Homo sapiens: one gene and its partners. The protein of the gene in region 4 purifies or fractionates together with the protein of the main gene of each other region. This does not show direct contact. Each region holds a gene or a part of one and is shown on either strand. Other genes may lie near its edges. The genes, in order: EEFSEC, TXNDC9, CAPRIN1, PCF11, CPSF7, POC5 and ATF7.

Region 1 (3,500 bases), on a different chromosome or scaffold from region 4:
TCCCTAATTCTCATAGCGCCTGTTTATTGGAGGCCTATGATGTGCCTCAAGGAGGTGTTCCCAAGTAGGTCTTCTGTGTAGATAAAGAAACTGAGGCTCCAGAAGGTGAGGTGGGCTTGAGATCACATGGTTAACAAGTGGGGCTGCTGGAGGGGAAACCTCCCTTTCTGGACGCTGTACGTCAGGGTGGCAAGTATGTGTGGAGTTATTTCTGGGTACCTTTTTCTTAACCACAGTAATTTCAAATTAAACATGACGTGAATCTTATGATGCTCAGAATCACAGAATCTGGAAGAAATCCAGGTTGGTTTTGCACTCCTGGTGGCCATCGACAGATGCCGCATTATTCTTCTGAAGACCTGTGAGAAGGATGAGTGGTTGGTGCCTTCCCATCACCCCTCCTTCTACTATGATGGCCTGGCTCTGATTTAAAAGATAGTGCCTTGATATTCCCCTTATTTAGAAGGCATTTTTAATAGTTTTACTTTATGCGACAAGAGAAACTTACAGCCTCATTGACTGCCCTCCCCTTCAACAAGAATAAAAGGTAGGGAACACATGCTACTTAGAATTCATGTGAGACCTTGCCTGGAATGCTGGGGTCCAGGGCAGTTCTCTAATCCTTGAAGGAGCCTACAGTGCAGGGAAGTGGAGGTGCTCAGCCCTGTGGACTCAGCTAGCTGCTAGAGAGGCTTGGATGTGCATGATTTCAATTTGCATGTTAATTGGGAATGGCTACCTGGAGGCTGTATTGAGGCATTTTAAGGTTGTCTGGCTCACTAGGTGTGTTGGTTAAGGTTCTCCGGAGAAACAGAACCAATGGGAGATACAGATATCTAGGTATCTATAGATACATAGGTAAAGATACATAGATGTAAATATGTAGATATCTGTATCTCCTATTAGTTTTGTTTTGCTGGAGAACACCAACTAATGCACCTAGTATTAGATGCAGATAGATAAATAGATACGTTTTTTAAGGAATTTGCTTATACTATTATAAAACCTGGCAAGTCCAAAATCTACAGGGTAGGCTGGCAGGATTGAGGCCTAGGGAGGAGCTGCAGCTTGAAGGCCATTTGCTGGCAGAATCCCCTCTTCTCTGAGGAGGTTAATCCTTTTGTTCTTAAGGCCTTCAACTGATTGGATGAAGCCCACCTACATTATAGGGGTCATCTGCTTTACTCAACATCCACCAATTTAAATGTTAATCTCATCTGAAAACACCTTCACAGAAACACTCAGAATAAAGTTGGAGCACTGTGGCCCAGCTAAGTTGACACATAAAATGAACCACATCACCCGCTGGGTGAGAGGGCCATGATAGCAGCACCTGGCCTGAGTGAGGGAAGTGGAGAGGGTCCCTACTGGCACCCATGTCTTGCGTGTGCCATCCCTCATCTAGAGCAGCATGGTTGGATATAGGGAAGGGGCATTTCATGGAGGGCAGGCATGAACAGGGTTCCCCCAAATGAAGGCAACCTGAGGTTTCAACCCCCCAGCTCATTTTACAGCAGTGTGTCTATTACTTCCTTCTGCAGGGGCCAGGGGTATTAGGGAAGAGTCTCCTGACCAGAAAGGACAAAACAAAAGAAAGGACTTGGCTCTGGCCAGGTTCCAGAGCTCCTTGGATCTAGTGGGAGGAGTCGAATGGCAGGGCCCCACCATATCCAAGGAGCCCTGGAACCTGGCCAGAGCTGGGTGTTAGGATGTCCCCCAGACACTGTGAGTCACAGTCCCCTCCTTTACCTGCTGTCATGTCCTCCTCTGAAGACCATTGGTCCCAGAAAAAGACCACTTGAATAAAATCTAGTTTAAGCCAGGGACTAAAAGTGCAAATCTTCAAAAATAAAGCACAAAAGTGTAAAAGTAGATTCAGTTTATATTTAACAAAATTAAGATTACTTTGGTGACTGTTTGCAGATTCTTTGCTAGAACAGAAAATGAATCAGTACTAAATTTCTTTCCAGTCTCTGTGCTTCCTAAGTCAGACCTCTGGGGGCCACTCTGACCTGGCATCCCTTCCACTCTGGGAGAAGACATGCTTGCAGCTTGGGAGAGGACCTGGGAGTATGAAAGAGGTGTCAAAAGAGGGCTCTCTGGGGGGTGGGGTAGACTTTGAATTGGGGGTACCTGAGGTTCTAGAGGGAGAAAAAGGTTTTTGATAAGAGTCAGTGGCTGCAATGTTAGGGCTGAGGGCATGGAGAAGGGCTGAGGCAGAGAAGTCAGTAGTGGTAAGGAGGCAGGGATGTTCGAGTGGGGTCCTGTTCTGAGCTTTTTGGCCACCCTCTTTGTCCTTATAAAGGTGGAACTTGCCTATCAGGATGCCAGTTACTGATCTTTAGTACTTGGGCACATGGCAGGTGCTTGGCAGATACAAATTTAATTCTCCTTTTACTTTTGTGCACCTGTTTTTCCCCAGCCTACTTTTTAACACTTTTGGTGTCTACTGCCTGATGATCTAATTTACTAGTCAGGAAAAGCAGAACTTGTAAGCAATGTACTGAGACATTTGGTTAAGGAGATTTCTAAGCAAACTGTGAAAGATGCTGCCTTGTTTCTCCATTGATGCTTATAGTAAAACATGAGGGAAAAGGAATGAATTGAGGAAGGAACTGTTAGCAAACAGAAATCAGCGCTTGATGATTTCGGAGGTTCTCAGTCCCTCTAGATTGCAAAGGATGTTAAGATTAGGAAATTCACTGCTGAGAAAGCATACCTTGGAGAGAAGGCCAAAGGTGAGCCTGGACAACCTTCTGTTGAAGAGAGGAGGTGTGTGACTCACAGATCCAAGCAACTTAGCAGCAACCAGAAATAGAGATGGACTTCTATAGCAAAGTTATGCGGAGAGCCGTCTTGGCTAATGGCATGGACCCCTTGATGTATATAAGAGACCCTCAAGGGTTTTGAGAATGTTATACCAGCAAGAACACTGGACTGAAAGGGAGAGAGACTTGACAAATGAATAAAAAGCTGTCAGACTTCTGGGATTCTACAGACAAGAAACAGGCTGATAGAACAACTCAGCTACAAACACATGTTATCCTTCAAAAACTAAAAAAGGAAGAATGACTCTGAGAGCAGGGCTCTGGAAACAGAAGTGAGGCTAGGGGAGTAGCCACAGAGGTCAGTCTCAGGTATTGAAACCTCATGGAATTTGCCCTGCTGTGTTTTAAACTTGCTTGGGACCAATGAACCTTGTATTTTTTCCACCGTCTCCCTTTTGGAATGTTAGAAGTAGGTAAATTGTTTTCTAGGTCCACAGATGGAGAGGCATTTTGCCCCAGGATAGACCATATCTAGAGTCTCACCCCTACCTGATTAGGTGACTTACATGATGACATTAGGAACTTTTTGAGCTGATGATAATTTAGATGAGATTTTGGACTTAGAGTTAATGGCCTAATGGACTGAGAGTTTGGGGGATGTTTGAAGAGGTGAATGTATTTTGCATGTGGGATGGATGTAAATTTTGGGTACCAGAGGGTAGACTATAGTAG
Region 2 (3,500 bases), on a different chromosome or scaffold from region 4:
GGCACACACCTGTAATCCCAGCTCCTCGGGGGCTGAGGCACAATAATTGCTTGAACTCCGAAGGCGGAGGTTGCAGTGAGCCAAGATCACACCACTGCACTCCAGCCTGGGTGACAGAGCAAGACCCTGTCTCAAAAAAAAAAGTATTTGTCTTTTAAAAAGCTGCTATTTCTAGGCCGGGCGCAGTGGCTCACGCCTGTAATACTAGCACTTTGGGAGGCTGAGGTGGGCGGATCACCTGAGGTCAGGAGTTCAAGACCAGCCTGGCCAACATGGCGAAACCCCACCTCTACTAAAAATACAAAAATTAGCCGGGCATGGTGGCAGGCGTCTGTAATCCCAGCTACTTGGGAGGCTGAGGCAGAAGAATTGCTTGATCCTGGGAGGTGGAGGTTGCAGTGAGCCGAGATTGTGCCACTGCACTCCAGCCGGGGCAACAGAGCAAGACTCTTATCTCAAAAAAAAAAAAAAAAAAAAAAAAAAAAAGCTGCTATTTCTTTTCATTATTTATTCTCAGGTATTTAACCAAGAGGCTGAAGACCCGAACCTGTCCTGGGCTCCTTTGAGGGAGGATGTGCCCATTCCAAACCTCTACCAATGCTCAGGGCCTCTCCTGACACATTCACTACACCCCTGTGCTCTTAGCATAGCCCCTTTTGGACAGCATGTGCTCCTAAGGTATCTGCAGAACAGAATCAAGCAGGATGGGCCTACCTGAGGCATGGCAGCTGGGCAGCACCTGGCTGTCAGTGGCTGTCACCCAAGCCTCTGCTTAACTCCTATTTCTTACCTTATCCCTCTATTCTGCTCCCTACCTAAGTGTGCCAGCTCTAGTTAACAGTAGGAGGGTGCTTGGCTGACAGAAGAATATAGATTCACCTAGGTCTATTAAGTGCCGACTGTAAGTCAATGCATACAATGATCTCCCCAATACCCTCGTGGATCAGAAAATCAAAATTACTGCATAATCTAATTACTGTATAATCTCTTATAAAAAGAATATCTATACAAATCACTAGGTTTCTTGACTATTTCCAGAAAATATTTTAATAAAAGACCTACTAAAATGCAGTGAAAGTTCTAAAATAAGACCCTCTGAATTACTCGATGACAAATTCATTTTAAATTGATTTATACATTAATAATAAAAAAGGCTTATAGCCAGTCTGCCTTAGTTGGTTTTAATTATATTCAGACCACTGTTTTGAACTGCCAAAAAGTTCCTTTAAGACATTATTTAACGTATGTTCATCACTGCAAATCAGGTGAATTCAGTCTCTCTACAAAAATATCCTAGTTACAAATAATTATTTTTAGTTGCACATTAGCAATTAGTACTTAAATGTGACTATGAAATATGAGTTTGTGGCAGAACCTAAACATATATTACCTTAAATTCCAATAATCCGTCCTTTGCATACTAATTATCAGCCCTATACTATGAAAAGAAGCCAATTGGGCCTGGTGTGGGGTGGCTCACACCTGTAATCCCAGCACTTTGGGAGGCTGAGGCAGGCGGATCATTTGAGGTCGGAATTTGAGACCAGCCTGACCAACATGATGAAACCCCATCTCTACTAAAGTACAAAAATCAGCTGGGCATGGTGGCAGGCACCTGTAATCCCAGCTACTTGAGAGGTCAAGGCAGGATGGGCAACAGAGTGAGACTCCCTCTCAAAAAAAAAAAAAAAAAGAAAGAAAAGAAAAAGAAAAGCAGCCTATTTTTTAAAATACGGTAGGGTACAGGTAAAAGCCATATAACGTACTCTATTTTAGAAACTCAAAATATAAAAATTTGGACTCACTTATAAAAGATTATTTCCTTTTGTAGTAACTCTTCTAAACATGAGGGTGTAAACATATCAAAGTGATGCTACAGCAATACAAACAAAACTCCTTCTCTTTTTTTGTGGGGGAACTGGGTCTTGCTCTATCATCCAGGCTGGAGTGCAGTAGCACAATCTCGACTCACGGCAACCTCCACCTCCCGGGTTCAAGAGATTCTCCTGCCTCAGCCTCCTGAGTAGCTGGGACTACAGGTGTGCGCCACCACACCTGGCTAATTTTTGTATTTTTTGTAGAGACAGGGTTTCACCATGTTGGCCAGGCTGGTATTGAACTCCCGACCTCAGGTTGTCCGCTCACCTTGGACTCCCAAAGTGTTGGGATTACAGATGTGAACCACCATGCCCGGTCAAAACTCCCTATTTCTTCAGAAAAGTTAAGCCTCATGTTTAAGTCACAGTCAACTGAAAAGGAACCAGAGTTGGTGATAAAGTATTTCCATGTAACCCAGTGGAAAAAATGTTTTAATCAAAATTCAATTTGGCCAGGTGCGGTAGCTCACGCTTGTAATCCCATCACTTTGGCAGGCTAAGGTGGGCGGATCACTTGAGGTCAGAAGTTCAAGGGCAGCCTAGCCAACATGGCGAAACCCCATCTCTACTAAAAATACAAAACTTAGCCAGGCATGGTGGTGTGCGCCTGTAGTCCCAGCTACTCGGGTGGCTGAGGCAGAATAATTGCTTGAAGCCGGGAAGCGGAGGTTGCAGTGAGTTGAGATGACACCACTGTACTCCAGCCAGGGTGTCACAGCGAGACTCCATCTCAAAAAGCAGAAAAAAAAATTTCAATTTACAGAATTTAATCCACTGGTTTCAGTCAGAGTTTACAACTCTGCGTTTATTCTACACAAACATTCTAAGAGGCAACAACGATAGAGCTGTGGCCACCTTTGTTACAAAGCATGCATTCTTTTGAATATGCCACATAATTATTTCATTGGAAATGCCTGAAATACATTTTTCAACATAAATTGACTTAATTGCTCTTATCTCATCTGTCTTATCTCGTTTGCTTTGAAAATAGCTAAATCGGCTTTAATATTACCTGAAATGGAAACCAATGACTCCCTAGCCCTCCATTCAACCAAACAAATCCAAGCTCAGAAAAACGATCTTGGGCAGATCTTTCTTTTACTCGACTGTGGATTAATATAGAGATTGGGCTAATTTTGAATGTCTTTAAAACATATTTTTTTCTGGGCAAATTTTTAACAGTAATAGGTATTCTGAATTTTAAAAACCCTAAACACAAAGAACGAAATGTAACTACTACAGCACATGTATATATAAGTTGTTAGGCGCATACTGTTATAGCAATTTCAGAAAGCAGGGCAGAGAGGTTACTTGTTTCTGCTGTTGAGCTTTCCTTAGTGCCTGGAGTCTCTTTTCTTTAAGGCGTTCCAATTCATCCTCATCCATCTGATCCAGTTTTTGAATTTCAGAATCCAAATGTTCTTCCACCAGTTTGGTAGTCTGAAGCAGCTGATGCTCCAGGACTTTGGAAAACATGTCAACAGATGCATCAGCTTCCATTCTTCCAAATGGTACAGAGTTCAGCCTGGGTGCTGGGGAGAAGATTTACAAAATACATTTTAAAAAATGCAAACAATAAGCAAGGTTTTCTCTACCATTTTCAAAAATTCTGGCAAGTGTATA
Region 3 (3,500 bases), about 49 Mb from region 4:
CAAAAAATAATTTGAACTAGTAAAAGGTCATTAGAACCTCCTTTTTTATTTTTTTACCTCTGAATCCATTGGCAGGGCCCCGGTATCCATTCATCAAGCCTCTAGCACCACGGGAGCCTCCACGAGACACACCACGACTATTGTAATAGGGCTGATTGCTACGTGGAAATCCAGTGTTCTGCTGAGGAGGCTGCTGGTGGTTACCAGTCACTTGATGGGACTGGTCTGGGGAACCATGGTAAGTGCCAACCACTATAATTTAAAAAAGAAAAAGATATATACATAAACAGCTCATTACCGTTTGTTCTCCCACGCACTTTCTAGTTTAAGAAGTGTCTTATACAGTCTCCTTAAAGTTTAATCCTTAAATTTGCATACAATGATAAGAAAAACTACACATGAATAAAGTCTCTTACCTTTCTCCTACCCTTAGACTCAGCTATTGGGGGTAAAATTCTCCAACCACAATTCCAAACCTTTGAAAGCAGGGTGCATGATTGATCCTTCCAAACAAATTATTTGAAAGGCTATATTAACGTCTTCTGAAAGGCATCTACTTTTTAGCACAAGAGACCCAAAATAACTCAAAAGATTTACTCTTAGTACATTACCATTTTGTACCATTTAATTACTTCTTTTCATTATAAAGCTCCTTAGTGGTAGAAGTTTTCTTATTCTTTTAAATATCCTTTTTTTTACTTAGTAAAACATACAAAACCACTCTCTCATATTTAAGCAGCTAGATGGTAGAATATGTCATCAACTACATAGTTTAATCAGCAGAGGCCTTCGACTTGTAGCCCTTAATGCCAAATTCCATTTCAAAGTATTTAAAATGGCAAGTATAGCCAATTTAGAAAACAATCACATGGTACTCACATTGGCACTCAACCCACTTGAAGGTTCTAGACTAAGGTACACACTAACATATATACAAGCTCCATCCACAATGGACAGAGTTCTAGAATCTAGAAATTTTCAAAAATTCAATACTACAGAACAATGTTTATAATTCAAAGAGGAGAAAAAAATAGGGTGCTAAAAGTACCTTTGGGAGGTGAGGAAGGCAACAGAACAAAGGAAGGCCCACACACTAACAACAAGGGTCAGAAGCTGCTGGCCAACCCAAATCTCCCCTTTTGGGGCAGAGAGAAAAGCAGCTGTATGACTCTTGAAAATCTTTACTTGACCTATTTTACACCCTTAAGAAACTCCAAATACATTAATAGTTGTTAGAATCCTATTTTACGATGAAAGCACTAGGGAATACCTAGAGAAAAAGAGAGAGCCACTGCTCCTCTTGAATTACTTAGTAAACCAACTACATCGGTGTCATCTTTTTACATAGATTGCCTTTTATTATATTCCCAAAATTTAAAATTGTAAGTGAATGACAAATACACATAACATTTTCCTTGTAAAATGGTTCATGTGTATCCATGTACAAAGTAGCCAAAAGAACTGAATTTTAGAATCATTTTATCAATAACAGCTTTTAATCTTGATCAAATCTCACTGTAAGAAATTCATAGCCAGGCTGGGTGTAGTGGCTCACACTGGTAATCCCAGCACTTTGGGAGGCCAAGCTGAGCAGATTACTTGAGCTCAGGAGTTTGAGACCAGCTGGGCAACACAGTGAGACCCCATCTCAACAACAACAACAACAACAAAATACAAAAAATTAGCCAGGCATGGTGGTGCATGCCTGTGGTCCCAGCTACTTGGGAGGCTGAGGTGAGAGGATGGCTTAAGCCTGGAAGGAAGAAGTTGTAGTGAGCCGAGATCGTACCACTGCACTCCAGCCTGGGAGACAAGAGCAAGACTCTGTCTCAAAAAATGAAAGGAAAAAGGAAAGGAAAGAAAGGAAGAAACTCACAGCATAATAACTTAAGTGTGATCTTTATTTTATTTAATTTTCACTTTTAAGACAAGGTCTAGCTCTCTCACCCAGTACTGCTGAGGTTGGAGTTCAGTCAAATAATCTTGGCTCACTGCAACCTTGAACTCCTGGGCTCAAGTGATCCTCCGGCCTTAGCCTCCTGAGTAGCTACAACTACAGGCATTCACCACCTCACCCTGCTAATTTCTGTATTTATTTTATAGAGGTGGGGCTCTGTGTTGCCCAGGCTGGTCTCAAACTCCTGGTCTCAAGTGGGCCTCCCAAAGAGCTGGGATTACAGGCGTGAGCCACCACACCCAGCCTTCATTTTATTTTAAAATACCCAAATTCCTACTTAAATTTTGGTAAAGTATAAACTTGTAGGCCATTTTAAAAAGCCAAAGATTCTGTCATGTTGTTCCTGATTAGACACTAATTCAAAATAAAATTTCTAAAATGATGGGACATACTGAAATGATTTCTTCAACAAATATCAGGCCGGGAATGGTGGCTCACGCCTGTAATCCCAGCACTTTGGAAGGCCGAGGCGGGTGGATCACCTGAGGCCTGAGGCAGGAGGCCGAGGCAGGAGAATCGCTTGAACCCAAGCGATTGAACCTAAGAGGCGGAGGTTGCAGTGAGCCGAGACTGCATCACTGCACTGGACAACGGCCCACAATGTATACATATTATTTCATCATGAACGCCTGGCCTCAAGCAATCCTGCCACCTCAGCCTCAAATGTAGCTGGGATTATAGGTGCCAGCCATGAAGCCCGCCCACAACGGACACACATTTCAACACATCATGCTGTATACCATAAATACACATATATATAGTTTCTACTTCTCAATTAAAAATAAACAAATGAACTTTTTTTAAAAAAATAGAAAAAGCAATCCATGTACTTATCAGTGGGAGAAAGTTTTCGGCAAGAAGGAAAGTAAGTATGAAGGCCCTGAGATTAAAGAGAACTTGCTGCGTATGTGACTGGTGTTCGAGACCAGCCTGGACAATATGGTGAAACCCTCTCTCTACTAAAAATACAAAAAAAAAAAAAATTAGCCAGGCATGGTGGCCTGTGCTACTTGGGAGACTGAGGTAGGAGGATCCCTTGAACCCAGAAGCAGAGGTTACAGTGAGCCATGGTGATCACACCACTAGTTTTTATCATTTGGAAGCTGAGCATAGTATAACTGATAACTTCTATCAGAGTATGGAAGATTCGAGCTTCATATTAGTGATACTGAATACTACAGGATGTGTAAGAATTTACTACTGAAAAATCTAATGCTGATCCAAGTTTACCAAGAAATTGAATAATTAGAAAATTTTACAACTTTTCAAAATCGGGCTGACAAAATGAAAGTATTAACTCCTCTGACTGCTGGTTTGTTGTGGGATTCCAATTAAATTCTGAGGAATTAAAGAACTAAAGAAGACATCATGGTGGCTCATGCCTATAAGGTAGAGGTGGGAGGACTGCTGGAGGCCCTGAGTTTGAGAAAAGCCTGCAGTCCAAGCTACTTGTGGGGAGTTAAAGGCTCCAGTACAGGATTTGAGCCCCAGAGTTAAAGGCTCCAGTATCTGATTACACCACTGCACTCCAACCTGGGCAACA
Region 4 (3,500 bases):
TGCATACTGAGACAACTTTAAGGCAGTATGTTTACAATTTGTGATTAATTCGGTTGGTTTTGAATGACTACTTTTGCTTGCGTGCTGAAATTCTCCTAGGCTGAGTTTTACTTCTTTTCCAGGTGCAGACATTTTCTTACTATGACAGATTTATTTTATAGTAGTAAGATTGCATGGAAGAAAATACAAAATAAGAAAGATTTTAAAAGTACATTAGGAACATTATTGATAGAAAGTAGTCCTTCTGTTCATCTCTAATGGTACGAAAAAACAGTTGGCTTGCCTAGATTTACTCTACTGTATATCCTTGAAAGAAATGATACTCTTATTGACAGATACTCTAGAATGGTACTTACTTAGTCTTGTTTCTACATTACACAGAATCGGTGGGGTTTTTATTATGTGTACTCACTACCAAAAGTCCACATGTATACTGAACAAGGATTATAAATGGATATTTATTCACATACCAGCAATATGTAGAAGTCCTGCCTCCCTCTGGACTGCAAATGCTGTATTTGTATGCCAGTATAGTTCTTGCTCCATGACTATTCTGTTTTTTAACATTCCCTTTGACATCTTTTACAAGACCTTTTACAAGATTACTTTGTAATGTGGCTATAACCATGTGCAAAGATGATGGCCAAGCAAGATGCTTACCTGCTTGGTAATTCAGAATGCTAATTAGAACAGGCTTTTGATATCTGTGGAAAAGTGGCAAGGGTTAGGAGTTCTGGCCTCAGTTTTGCTCCTAACTAGCCCTTGTGATTGTGTATAGATCATATTGCATTATGTCAGTTCTTCTATTTGTAAAATAAGGGAAAGCACCAGCAAGGTAAAGTGACTTGTGTAAAGTAACACAGCTAGTTACCTTATATTTGCATGGTATCTTACAGTTTCCTTTTTGGGGGGCTACTTTGCCTCTCTAGTAGGTACCTTAAACTTTTCAAAGAAGTTTTAACCCATTCTCAGTAACTTATACCTCTATGAAACAGATAAGGGAAGGTTTTATTGTTCCTGTTTGTAGAAGACCTAGAAGTGAAGTGATGCAGCCAAGTTATCTTTCTAAATCTTTATTTATAAGCCAGGCCTTGTGACATCTATGAATATTTTTATGTAATTAGGATGTTAAAAGTTTTACTTGAAATATAGAAAGCATGTTCTTAAAATTAAGGTTTTTCTTAAAGGTTCTGAGTGGTGTTGCTCAGCCAGTAGCTTTTGGTCAAGGACAACAGTTTTTACCAGTTCATCCACAAAATCCTGGATTTGTTCAGAATCCTTCAGGTATGTACTTTCTGAACTTTGTTTTTCAAAAGACAAATGATTATTGTTTTGTTGAATAGCTAACTTTGTGAATTTTAGGAAATGACAGTTTTGCAAAGGTATATTTAATTTAGAGAAATTTAATCTGGCTGACATATTTTTGTTCCTTTTCTAAGTTTATTTACATTGTGGATGTGTATTCATAATGACCCTATTTACAGCTAGAGATGGTTAGCGGGGACTTGTAGTCCACTAAACAAAGGGAAGGAAACCTATTGGGTGGAAACTGGGAGTGGGAGGGAAGGTATGACATTTGTGTTGAGATAGAATGAAATAAATGACAGACCTTAGAAATCTCAGTGAATACTGAGGATACTGCATTAATAAAGTTGATTAATTTTTATGTTTTTGTGGGCACTCAAATAGCAAAAAGCGGCTTTCCTAGCCAGGTTCACTGATAAGCATCTTTGTTACTATGGGGTGATGCTTAGTACTAGATAAAAGGACTTTTAAAATGGATTTTAGTTTTATTTATTTATTTATTTATGAGGCAGAATCTTGCTCTCTTACCCAGTCTGGAGTGCAGTAGTGTCATATTGCCTCACTGCAGCCTCTGCCTCCGGGGTTCAAGCGATTCTCCTGTCTCAGCCTCCCAAGTAGCTGGGACTACAGGCGTGTGCCACCAGACTGGGCTAACTTTTGTATTTTTACGGGGTTTCACCATCTTGGCCAGGCTGGTCTCGAGCTCCTGACCTCAAGTGATCTGCCCACCTCAGCCTCCCAAAGTGCTGAGATGGCAGGTGTGAGCCACCATGCCCGGCAAAATGAATTTTAGTTTTAATATGTGGTAATAGGGAAGTACATACATTAGTGATACTTGCTTTCATTTCTGAATCATTGAAACAGCTGTTTCAGAAACATGCTTTACTGTAGTATTGAGTTAATCAGTTTACAATAAATTTATGGAGTTTTCCAAAACTTCTGAAGTAATTAGGAAATCCTAGCCAAGCTCTTTTTTATACATTAGTCCTTAAATTGTGTCAAGAAATTCAATGAATTTGGAAGCTTTTAAGTTTTAATTTCTACATGGACAATTATGACTAATTAATATTTGTTATTATTATTATTTTGTTACTATAATGAAAAGAGAAGGAAAGAATTTGGGATCTAAAGCCCAGAAGACCAGGGTTGGAATCTCTACTATGTTACTTTATAAATGCGCAGGCTTTAAGCAAGTATCTCCCCTGAGGTTCAGTTTTTTCCCTCTGTAAACAGCATATGGGCCGGGCATGGTGGCTCACGCCTATAATCCCAGCACTCTGGGAGGACGAGGCAGGTGGATCACAAGGTCAAGAGATGGAGACCATCCTGGCCAACATGGTGAAACCTCGTCTCTACTAAAAATACAAAAATTAGCTGGGTGTGGTGGTGCATGCCTGTAGTCCCAGCTACTCAGGAGACTGAGGCAGGAGAATCGCTTGAACCCAGGAGGTGGAGGTTGCAGTGAGCCAAGATCAGGCCACTGCACTTAGGCCTGGTGACAGAGTGAGACTCCGTCTCAGAAAAAAAACCAAAAACCAAAAAAAAAACATGATATGGTAGTATCAGTATTTGTCTGTTTTGTTGTTGTTTTTTTTTTTTTAGAGAATCAAATGATATAGTATATGCAAAAGTACTTTGTAACTTGTAACTTGTCAAGTGCTATATTAATGTATTTTCCTTTAGAACTCAGTTTTTATTGTTGAGCAGAGGATTTGTTATATTGGGGTTAGTGGCATGAGATGCTCTACAGAAACTACAAATTTTCTTGTTTCTTTCTTTCTTTCTTTTTTTTTTTTTTTTTTTTTTTTTTTTGAGACGAGTCTTGCTCTTGTCACCCAGGCTGGAGTGCAGTGGCATGATCTCAGCTCACTGCAACCTCTGCCTCCTGAATTCAAGCAGTTCTCCCGGGCTCAGCCTCCCCAGTAGCTGGGACTACAGGCACATGCCACTACACCTGGCTAATTTTTGTATTTTTAATAGAGGCAGAGTTTCACCATATTGGTCAGGGTGGCTTGAATCCTGACCTCAGGTGATCCACCTGCCTTGACCTCCCAAAGTGCTGGGACTACAGGTATGAGCCACTGTGCCCAGCCTTGTTTTGCTTTTACAACCTTGGGTTATATGTGTATGTGTACAGGACATAGCAGTGTCACAGAGGAAATCATAATTATTCCCCTTGTTAGGGGGTATTGAAT
Region 5 (3,747 bases), about 22 Mb from region 4:
TCTCTTCAATTTGGATCGAATTCAAAGATTCAGAAGCCCTAATGGTATGTAATTGAGTGCACTGAGGGCTTCAGTTTTCCCTTAGAGAAAATGGGACAAATACCAGCCTGCGTAGGTGTTTAGACAGGCCAGGAAGGCTTAGGCCATATAGATTCTGAGGACCCAAGCTGAAAATAGTGTCATTTCGGTGTGTACAAGGATCAGGGAGGACGTAGATGTCTCCTCTAGGTTTTATAAGGCCACTTTACAGAAGTAGTTATATAAAAGGTAAACATTTGTGCGTAGGCTGTGTTGCCAGTTTGGGCATTAGGAGAAATTCTAATTCCTCATTTTCCCTTTGGCTATTAATTCTGTTTAATATGCTCAGACTGACCATACCACCACCCGCAGATGGGTATTGCAGCATTGGAACAGGTGCTGAGTATAGTAGGAACTTTGTTTGGTGGCCATGTGACAGGTGGCTTAATAGACCCTTTTGGGTAAAACTTCTTAACTGCATTTAGGTTTCTTCCATGCTCTGCTTTCTGTTCTGGCCTGGCCACGTGACTCCTGCTTAGTGTTAGTATGTTTCCTGGTTCCTCACCTATGGCTGTCATGCGAGGAAAGACTTAAAATCTCGAGTTTTAGTACACTTGGAAAACCTCTGGGGCTGTGTTTGTGTACACACATACTCATAAAGGCACTTTTAGCCAGGACTCCTTTAAAAAGAAAAAAGAAGGATTTAAGAGTTTCCTGTGTATGTGCATCCTGCCTGCTAGGGCCTCTTGGGTGTTTGGGGATTAATGGATTTGGTTGTGTACATACTTGTTTTCTTACCACTAAACCTCCCATTTCCAGATTTTTCCCCCTCCCCTTAAGGTAAGCTATGACTTGCACAGAATAGACTTCTTAACCTATATTTAAACTCACCTTATTCCCTTTTAGCAACTTTTCTTGAAATATGTCACAGTTTCCATACTTTTGCAGCCAAAGTCTCCTTTTCAGTCGAACGTTCAGAGACCTCATTTTGTTCTGTTTTTTCACCGAATCTTTATAGTGGATGTCACTGCTTTTTTTCTCTCTACTCACAGTAGCTTCTCCTCCAGCCATTCCTCACCACTTCTAGTGTCAGACAGTCCTGCTTTGTTTTCCCAGACTTGCATTCTCTGTCTGCATTCCTTACTTCTTATGTTGTAGCGTTAGAATATGTGTGTTTTATATAAGCCCCTGTCATTCAGAAAGTAACCTCTAACTTGTGTTTTCTTTCTTTTCTTCTGATGTTCTCATTGCAGGAGTCTGGTTGGAAGCAAATGTTTTTTTAATGGACTTGCATCTCCTCACCTTGATCAGGACTAAAGGACGGAGGCCGCCCCACCCCCTTCCCTTTCCTCCAAACCCCTAACTCCCTCCAGACACCCAGGGAATACCCTCTGCCCCACAGGATTGAAGACTGCTTGGCAGTCCTCCCAATCCCACACCTCCTGTTTGCCAGGGGAAAGAACCTAAAGACTTCGTGTGATTGGGAGGGGTGGCAGACAGGAAGAAAACATGTCCAGGCCCCTGGTCTCCATAGAGAATGGTGCTTTGTCCAAGAAAACGTATGAGTTTCTGATTCTCCGGGAGCCGTTCAATGGTGAGGTTGATGGGAAGACTTCCTTCCCAAAGAAAATAGATCCTCCATGCAGGATCTAGGAGAGTGACTGGGTGTGCCAAAATATGCCCAGGGTCCTGCCCTCAGCACTAGATTTAATGGGGCCAAGAGGGTCCAAACCCCTTGCTAACATACCACTTCTTTGTTTAACTCCTTTACCTTTCCAGCCCTTTGAGGAGGGACCATGAGAACAGAAATTACCTTATGAAAAGCTACTTCTGTTCCTGCTTTCCCTCTCACGTATTGACGGTTTATTTCTTTGACCTCCCAGAGGGCTGAACTCTTTCAACTCTGCGCTGCCCAGCCTTCTCAGTGGACTTGCCCCTCCTAAGCAGAGAAGGCCTATGAGGTTGCTTGCTGCTGGGAAGCCTGGCAGAGCCAATTACCACCCTCTGCTGCTTAGTGCTTGGGTACCTCTTGCAATAACCAGCTCTTAGTTGTTCCCTTTCCCTGGGGCTTTTCCATTTAACACATGGAGCCCTTCCCCCAGAAGGCTACTTCCTTGTTTTAGAGGAAGGTACTGCCCATTGGGAGATGGGGACATTGGGACCTCAGCAATGAAGAACCCTTGTGAAGTAACCAGGAGGAATGGGGAAAGAAGCAAGTTGGGCAGGATATGGCCTACTTCCATAGGCTTTTCTTTTTTCAGGTTTGATGTAAGCATGGGCTTACATCCCCCAGGTACATACTTTTACTTATTGTGGGATAACCTGGCACTAGTAGGCAGGTAAAGTCACAAATTTGGTGTCTTTTCACCTTTTGACTGTTGACTTAATAGCTCCTCTCACTCTGCCTGGAGATACTTCCTGCCTCAGATGAGGAGCCAGAAGAAACAGAGCCCGACTTGAATGAACTCAGCTCAGAGTTCTAAGGACCAGCATTCTGGGGGCCATTTTCTCTACAGGCAAATGGAATTGCTTTTCCATAACATCCAAATTGTAATGTGGTTGCTGCTGAAGGAGGAGGCAGCAGCGAGGTCCTGCGGTACCCATGGGGTGATGCTACTTCTGCATGCATCTACAGGGCATCTGACACCTAACATGAGACGTGGCATGTGAGATGAGACTTGGCATGTGAGACATAGGGTCACTAGAGACCCTTCTGGGTCAGAGGAGAGAGACTGAATTGGACTAAACCCGTCCTCTGTTCCCAGCACGTTTCTCATATAGCCCTCAGTCACTGAGGGAGTCCCCCGCAGGATTGGAGAGGCACATTCCCTTGGGACAGAGGCTACAGGTTGGAGCTTTTTTTCCCCTGTCCCCCAACCCCATCCCCACCTCCACTTCAGAACATGGCACCCCACCCAACTGGCCAAGTGTTAAGTGATGTGCTTATTGAGAGCAACTCCGGGTGTCTTTTAAAATGTAGAGAAAAGGTGACAGTTTAAGGAAAAATATATATAGAATACCAGAAATGCCGTTTACCCGGAGAATTTTTTTCTCCCCATTTGTTTTGTTTTTACTCAATGACACCATTTTTAGTTTTATTTCCTGATAGCAAAAGGAAAAAAAACACCCATCCCTCAAAAAGGCCAAGGTCCCGTCCCCCTGTTGTCGGTGATTTGTTTGTCTTTCTGATAGGTTGAAAATTGTGTAATAAACTTGATGACGCTGTCAATCTTTTATACTGCATTGTATTTTTTTCCTTTTGTAACAAAATATTTTTAAATAATAAATGGGGTGTGAGCTGTTTTATGGATTCTGCATTGAATAGATTTGTTGAGGTGTCTGGGGCATGGGCATGGGCTGATGTAGACACTCGAATGATGGTGAAATGCCAAGTTCTTAGCTAGGATTGCATGTCAGGCAGTGATACATGGCTTTAGTTGACTGTGGAAAGCCTCCTAAGAGACCTCTAATGCAAACCTTTGGAGGCATCCCTTAAGGTTTAGCTTTTTTCCTTGGCCATCTAAACAGCTGGTTAAAGAAAACTTCTAAGTTATCCTTTACCCTTCAAGATTCCTAAGACTTATTTTCAGAGCAAATGTTCTACCTTGTGCAGTTAAATTCCAGTATCAAGTTCAGGAAGGGAAGAATCCTTTGATAGGAGTTAGAAGATCTGACTGGTAGTGCCTAGTTTACCACCTGTTTATCTAAATATGGACAAGCAGTGTAACC
Region 6 (3,500 bases), on a different chromosome or scaffold from region 4:
TCTCTTATCCAGAGCAGAAGTCAGACTAGGGAAGCCACAAGTGAAAGCCACTGACTTCCACTTCTCCCTCCGTTCCTACATGCTAGAGGTGGTGATAGGCTAACTCTGAGTAGAGCTGACTTGGCTAAATCTAGTTGCAACTGACACCACAGCAGGAACACTATAAAAAGTTTATGAACCTCACAATATAAGATCACCATCATATTAATCTGCTCAGGCTACCATAACAAAGTACCATAAATTCATAGGCTTAAACAACAGACATTTATCTTCTCACAGTTCTGGAGGCTAGAAGTCCCAGATCACAGCCCAAAAGGGTCAGTTTCTGGTGAGGGCTCTCTTTGTGGATTGCAGACAGGTGCCTTCTTGCTGTATCTTTGCATGGCCTTTCCTCAGTACAGTATGTGCAGGTGGGAGGAGAGCATGCACAAGGTTCCTGGTGTCTCTTCTGATGAGTACATTAATGCTCTCAGGGCCCCAACCAATGACCTTATTTAACCTTAATTACTTTCTTGAAGGCCTCATCTCCAAATACAGCCACACTGGGTGTTAGGGCTTCAGCATATGAATTTTGAGGGGACACAAACATTCAGACTCCGTAACTCCATAACAGCCACACTTTTATATATTCTTAGCCAAAATCAAAAGTATATTTTGGGTGTTTGGGAAGTATAATAGTGCTTTAACAGAAACCAAGTAAGGGTGGTTTAAGTGGGTTCCTTACAGTTTCATTCTGTCTCTCATAAATTCTGAGCTGATACGTAGTCCTGAGATCATCTGAGGACCCAATCCCTTCTCTCTTTTTGCTGTACCATGAGCTGTTGACCGTGTTTGCATTGTCAGGTACTGGTGCACTGACAGTGTACTACCACTAGCCCATGGGAAGAGGGGACCAGCAGGAAGCAGCTTCGTTTTTAAGGACTTCACCTAAAGTTGTACACATCATTTCCAGTTGAATCCCATAGACCAGGTCTCTTGGCCACACCTAGCTGCAGAGGAGGCTGGGAAATGTAGCTGGGTGGCCATTTGCCCAAATCAAACCCTGGGGCTTTATTAAGTTAAAGAAATTAAAAAGAAATGGATGCTGCTGGATTAGTTACAGTCTCTATGCACTTGAAATTTTATGTATTAGTTTATTAGGACCAACACACACATTCAGGTTTATAGGAACTAGTAAATATCTTGTGCATGGCCCCAATTTATTAAGCTCTTTGGGAATTTCTTTTTGATAATTAGAAAACCAATATGCTTTGGGAAGTGTATTTTTTTTAACCTAAGGATATTTAAATCTATTTAAATAATCATAGTTACTTTTGTCAATGTAAAAATTAAATGTTGGTGCTCGCTTCAGCAGCACATATACTAAAACTGGAGCCACACAGAAAATTAGCATGGACCCTGTGCAAGGAGGACATGCAAATTTGTGAAATGTTCTATAATTTTTTAATAATTTTTTTAAGTTTTATAATATAAAAAAAGTTGTATTGTGATATCCTAAATGATTTGTTTCCTAATAAGAGCCTTCTGTCTCAGTGATAACCATTATGTAAAATACTGATTTTTATTTGCTACTAGGAAATGTAAGTTTAAAACTCAGACAGATGTTTATTCTCATGAAGGTGACATCACTAACAAAAATGGTTGATTATAGCAATATGAAGGAGATTCTGGTTGAATTTTCTAAAGATTTTCTCTTTGAAATATCTCTCTCTTCCTCTTCTGTCGTTAGCCTTAAAATATATAAAAATCAGTATTTGCTATACCTAATGTTTACTGCGTGTAAGTATCTATGTTAAATATGTGAATCAGGCCGGGTGCAGTGGCTCACGCCTGTAATCCTAGCACTTTGGGGGTCCAGGGCTGTGGATCAAGAGGTCAGGAGTTCAAGACCAGCCTGACCAACATGGTGAAACCCCATCTCTACTAAAAGTACAAAAATTAGGTGGGCGTGGTGGTACAAACCTGTAATTCCAGATACTCAGGAGGCTGAGGCAGGAGAATCGCTTGAACCTGGGAGGCAGAGGTTGCGGTGAGCCAAGACCATGCCACTGCACTCCAGCCTGGGCTACAGAGCAAGACTCCATCTCAAAAAAAAAGAAGAAAAAAATTGTAAATCAAGAAATCAAGGTTGAAGCGCAAACCAGGTCACTCTTGTACATGTAATTGCCATAAAAGCTAGCAGTTTTCAAATATATAAAAGCATAAGCTTTTTTAAAAAACAATTTTACTTAAAATTCCGATATAAAAAAGCAGATGAAAACAAAACTACAGTAGTATAGATTTATTTTGTAAATTCAAATGCAATCAGTTAATAAAAACAGTTAAGCTGCCTTGATAAATGTACATTTGAAATTGGGGGGTAATAGAAGGCCATTGCAGTTTTATAAACTTAAGTATCCAGTTTGCTTCTATATTTTGTTTAGGTTACATAATTTTTTTTCAGTTCCAAAAATGGTATCTTTTTAATAGCATGTCTCATCTTCAATTAAACCAATCTGACATATAAAATTAAGTGATAGAAAATTTTTGATTCAGTGTTGAGTCACTCACAGAACCTTATCACCTCTTCATACTTTGTTGTTGTTTCCCCAGAGACAGGATCTTGCTCTGTCACCCAGGCTGGGGTGCAGTGGTGCCATCTTGTCTTACTGCAGCTTCCAGTTCCTAGGCTTAAGTGGTCCTCCTGCCTCAGCCTCCTGAGTAGCTACAACTACAGGCACACACCACCACACCTAGCAAATTTTTGTAAAAAATTTATTGTAGAGATGAGGTCTCACTTTGTTGCTCAGGCTTCAAGCCATCCTCCTGCCTCAGCCTCTCAAAGTGCTGAGTTTACAGGCATGAGTCACTGCACCCAGCCCTCTTCAAACTGTTAATCATAAATATAAAAATCACACAAGAAGCACTCGAGGAACTCAAGCTTGGAATAAGTGGTAAAACTTTGTAATATAATAAGCATGGGACTCTATTATGGTAATTAAATTTCTTTAAAACAAATTCAGTTGAATATATTATAACATTGTAACTGTTACACTACATTATTGATTATTGGCCTCTCTTAGGAAGAATATGAAGAACTGCTTCATTATGCTATAGTGACTCCAAATATTGAACCCTGTGCTTCACAGTCATCTCATCCTAAGGGAGAATTGGTGCCAGATGTCAGAATTTCTACAATTCATGATATTCTTCATAGTCAAGGTTATATATATTTTTCAAGATATCTCTTAATTTAAAATATTACTGAGTTTATTAATGATACTGACAGGATTGTGAAAATGCCTGTCCAGATCAGTGATTCTTCTCAACCATTTATGTGTATTAGTATCATCTAGGGGAGCTTTTTACATTTTAATATATTATTCCTGACTCTCGTGTGACAGCTTGATTTTTCTTTGAACTTCATTTGACTCTTACTTTTATGAAGAATAATAAAGTTGAAGCAATGCTATGGCAACTGCATGGCTTTTTGGTATGTTGTATCTCAGTACTTGTTCCAA
Region 7 (3,414 bases), on a different chromosome or scaffold from region 4:
CAGCCAGCTAAAGGGGAAGTCCTGAGCACAAGTTACGGCTGTGAATTTTTAAAGGCAAAAGTGAAGTCCCTGGATGTGGTAACCTGCGTCCTGACCATCTGCCATAACATTTGCTAGTCTGAATCACTTCAGGGCCTATTCCTGTTGGGTACCTGATGGTAGAGGATGAGAAAACCGTGTTTTCTCTCCTTTGTCTTTAGGGGTGTGGCCTGTTCAGCACCAGCTCTGAAAAGCAGGAGGGGAAATTTAAAACAAATGCAGCAGAACCTGTTACCTGACTGGTTCACTAGGACAGGATATCACTTTAAGGAAACGGGAATCTTGTAGCTTAGAACATTTTCTCATTCCCCTGTGACAGTCAATTTTGGAGACAAAATAAGAAAGGAAGCTGGCAGTTATTTTGTATGTATGTTTAAGATGGAGGTAGGAAAGATGGAGAGAAGGACATTCTTGGCTTGCACAGATGGCAGAAAGTGGCTCTGGGACAACTGGAAGGGTTTCATACGGAAAGGCAATTAAAGCTGACCTATCTATCCACAGGCCTCTGGCTCTGAATTGCTTCCTATGGTCCTGGTAGAAACTGCATAGTTCAGAGCCAAGGGGAGATGAGAAGCCTTAACGTGGAAGAGGGACAAGAGAGATGAATTGCTCCCTCTGCAACCCAACTCTTCAAAGTAAGAATGGTTGAGAGCAATAGTCACCAATTTCCCAGGCCAGAACCTGGGGTCCTTTGCTGGGACCAGTTCTGCACTTTCCCTCTCCTCTTCCTCCCTCCTTTCAATCTTATACTCAAGTAAACCCACTCAGCATCTTGGCTATGACGCTTCAAGATCCTGGAGCACTGCATGTAAAGAGAAGAGAGAAGAAATGGGTTGAAGAAACTCTGGAGGACCTGGAAGACCTAGTGGCTAAGCTAGGAACCTGGTGAAAGAGAAAGAAGATAGTCCAGACGGTGATGGGCACTTGTGAACAGAAGACTCTAGCTCAGAAAAGCAGACAGATGTGTGAGGGGGAGAGATGGGGTAGAACAAAGGAACTCGAGAGTCCCCTACATGACAGCCTCCAGGAGGGCTGAGTCTGAAGTAGTTACAGAAGAGAGACAGGGGCGGTAATGTTGATAGGGGAATGAAGAGAGAGAAGCAGGAGCAGAAAAATGACCAAAGATGACAATATGCTTTGGCCGGTAAACTCTTATAAAACATAAAGGAATCGATTAATCCCTAACTTGATGGAACAAGCTTTGAAATACTTTGTTCCTGTCTGCCCTGATGGTTAAACTAAAGAAGGAGGGAGGGGAGGAGACAGAATCAGCCAGTCAGATTCTGGGCCCTTCCCTTTTCACTACCAAGCAATCTTTAATAATAAGGCCACAAAATGAGGTTGCCAAGGCTTAGTGGGGTGGTGGGAAAGACCCCACCACTACACTAAAGTCAAGGGACAAAATGAGGTACCCAAATAGCTCTGCAAATAGATGAAAAAGAATTAGAACTCTTGAGGGTTTCTTTCTTTTTGGTGGCAGGTAGAGAGAAGGAATAAAGCTTATGGAAAAACTGGAAAATACTGCTACTTCATACATCAAAGGTAACCTTACATTCTCCGTAAGTGAATGTTTTAACTAGAATTAAGGAAGAGGAAAAAGGAAACGGGTAAATAAGCAGCTATGGGAGACCTGAGTCCTGAGTCCATGGGGTGGCTGGGGCTGGGTCAGCGGGTAATATGTCATCAAATCTAGCCTCCCTCTATCTGGCAGGAAGTGGCATGCTGGTAAGGAACAAAAAGGTAACAGCCACGGCTTAGTGGGAAGAGAGGGAACTGAGAAACCCCAAACCTAGAAGTGCCAAGGGTTAGTGTTAAAAGAGACAGATACACGTGCATGGGGCAGGGGTGATTGTTCGGACCATCTGGAAAGGCCTTTGGCTGTGGATGCATCAGAAACCCCACCCTGGGGGATGATCTATGAGGCTCCGGGGCTGGGAGGCCCCCAGCACAGGTGTCAAACGTACATGACCACATGGCTAAAAAGCCCCATATCTGTCCATTACTCACAACACACAATTCCCCCCACCCATATTGCCATGTCCAAGGCAGATGGGAGGGGATAAGATGACATCTCTCTTGGCTCTTGGGCGGGCGAGCTCTGGCTGAGGACCTCTCCACCAGAGGAGGCATCATCTGCCCGCAGACTGGGACTGTGGGGTCATGATTACATGCGATTGTATCGGCATGCTCAGTTCTGTCCTTTGGCTGGCCATCTGAGTGAGGACCGAGGTGGCCACAGCTTCAGCTGCAGAGCGAACACTGAGGCCATTGCTAGGGGCTGTTGCTGAGCTGTGCTGAATCACAGGGGCTGGAGAACCCGTTGGCTCTGAGCTTTCCTTGGGGCTTTCTGCCAGGAAGGAGGGCAAAGAGCAGAGAGCAATTGGTTAGAAAACAGAATGGGGAAAGAGGCAGGACTACCTTTTGCCATAATTCTAAAGGAGCCCAAAAGGGAAATGAAACCCATCTTTTTTTTGGGGAAAACTTCCCAGAATCCTGGCTTCTAAGTCATAAATGGGCTAGGAAATGGGAAGTTGTAAGAAGGGAAGAACTAGGCCAAAATTAACCTATCTATTCCAATAAAATGAATCTCCAACATGTTAATTACACTGTCTGGTTTCTAGGTCTTTGCATAGTTCATTACCAACTCTTATTATTATTCATTACTTCTATTCTTTCTTGTTTTTAAGAGATAGGGTCTCAAGTGATCCTCCTGCCTTGGCCTCTCAAAGTGCTGGGATTATAGGCATGAGCCACTGCGCCTGGCCTTCATTTCTTTAAAGATGATTTAAAATAGATCTCTTTTTAGCCATCCTCTTTGATTAATTCTCACAGGAACTGAATTATTCCATTATTTTATTTATTTATTTTTTTTCCTAAGACTGAGTCTTGCTCTGTTGCCCAGGCTGGAGTGCAGTGGTGCAATCTCAGCTCATTGCAACCTCTGCCATCCAGGTTCAAGTGATTCTCGTGCCTCAGCCTTCCGAGTAGCTGGGACTACAGGTGCACACTGCCACACCTGGCTAATTTTTGAATTTTTAGTAGAGATGGGGTTTTGCCACGTTAGCTAGGCTGGTCTCAAACTCCTGACCTCAAGTGATTGGCCTGCCTTGGCCTCCCAAAGTGCTGGGATTATAGGCGTGAGCCACTGTGGCAGGCCTATTCCATTATTTTTAATGTTCCTTTACCATGTAGTTGTACCACAGGTAAGTCTGATAGATATCAAGCTATAATTAAATGATATTATGAATGGCCAGTCCCTGGCCCGGGTTCAGTTAACATGTAAAACTACAAAGAAATCTTAAGACCCTCCTGACTAAAAATTAGCTAGGCATTAATGATTATAAAACATTATAAGTTATGCCACTCCACCTAAAG

What was found.
Region 1: the proteins of PCF11 (region 4) and EEFSEC fractionate together in Homo sapiens (co-fractionation; one large-scale study listed by BioGRID). This does not show direct contact.
Region 2: the proteins of PCF11 (region 4) and TXNDC9 fractionate together in Homo sapiens (co-fractionation; 2 studies listed by BioGRID). This does not show direct contact.
Region 3: the proteins of PCF11 (region 4) and CAPRIN1 fractionate together in Homo sapiens (co-fractionation; one large-scale study listed by BioGRID). This does not show direct contact.
Region 5: the proteins of PCF11 (region 4) and CPSF7 fractionate together in Homo sapiens (co-fractionation; one large-scale study listed by BioGRID). This does not show direct contact.
Region 6: the proteins of PCF11 (region 4) and POC5 purify together in Homo sapiens (co-immunoprecipitation; one large-scale study listed by IntAct). This does not show direct contact.
Region 7: the proteins of PCF11 (region 4) and ATF7 fractionate together in Homo sapiens (co-fractionation; one large-scale study listed by BioGRID). This does not show direct contact.

The regions. Positions count from the first base shown.
Region 1 is NC_000003.12:128,264,981-128,268,480, forward strand, and holds part of EEFSEC (selenocysteine-specific elongation factor), read left to right. Parts: intron 1-3,500. UniProt on the Homo sapiens protein: Translation factor required for the incorporation of the rare amino acid selenocysteine encoded by UGA codons. Replaces the eRF1-eRF3-GTP ternary complex for the insertion of selenocysteine directed by the UGA codon.
Region 2 is NC_000002.12:99,329,834-99,333,333, forward strand, and holds part of TXNDC9 (thioredoxin domain-containing protein 9), read right to left. Parts: intron 3,410-3,500; 5' UTR 3,378-3,409; coding exon 3,189-3,377; intron 1-3,188. UniProt on the Homo sapiens protein: Significantly diminishes the chaperonin TCP1 complex ATPase activity, thus negatively impacts protein folding, including that of actin or tubulin.
Region 3 is NC_000011.10:34,093,231-34,096,730, reverse strand, and holds part of CAPRIN1 (caprin-1), read right to left. Parts: intron 253-3,500; coding exon 58-252; intron 1-57. UniProt on the Homo sapiens protein: mRNA-binding protein that acts as a regulator of mRNAs transport, translation and/or stability, and which is involved in neurogenesis, synaptic plasticity in neurons and cell proliferation and migration in multiple cell types.
Region 4 is NC_000011.10:83,170,631-83,174,130, forward strand, and holds part of PCF11 (pre-mRNA cleavage complex 2 protein Pcf11), read left to right. Parts: intron 1-1,187; coding exon 1,188-1,284; intron 1,285-3,500. UniProt on the Homo sapiens protein: Component of pre-mRNA cleavage complex II, which promotes transcription termination by RNA polymerase II.
Region 5 is NC_000011.10:61,402,229-61,405,975, reverse strand, and holds the end of CPSF7 (cleavage and polyadenylation specificity factor subunit 7), read left to right. Parts: intron 1-1,271; 3' UTR 1,272-3,247; downstream 3,248-3,747.
Region 6 is NC_000005.10:75,707,438-75,710,937, reverse strand, and holds part of POC5 (centrosomal protein POC5), read left to right. Parts: intron 1-3,062; coding exon 3,063-3,201; intron 3,202-3,500. UniProt on the Homo sapiens protein: Essential for the assembly of the distal half of centrioles, required for centriole elongation. Acts as a negative regulator of centriole elongation.
Region 7 is NC_000012.12:53,514,969-53,518,382, forward strand, and holds part of ATF7 (cyclic AMP-dependent transcription factor ATF-7), read right to left. Parts: intron 2,641-3,414; exon of another isoform or gene 2,387-2,640; coding exon 2,169-2,386; 3' UTR 1-2,168. UniProt on the Homo sapiens protein: Stress-responsive chromatin regulator that plays a role in various biological processes including innate immunological memory, adipocyte differentiation or telomerase regulation.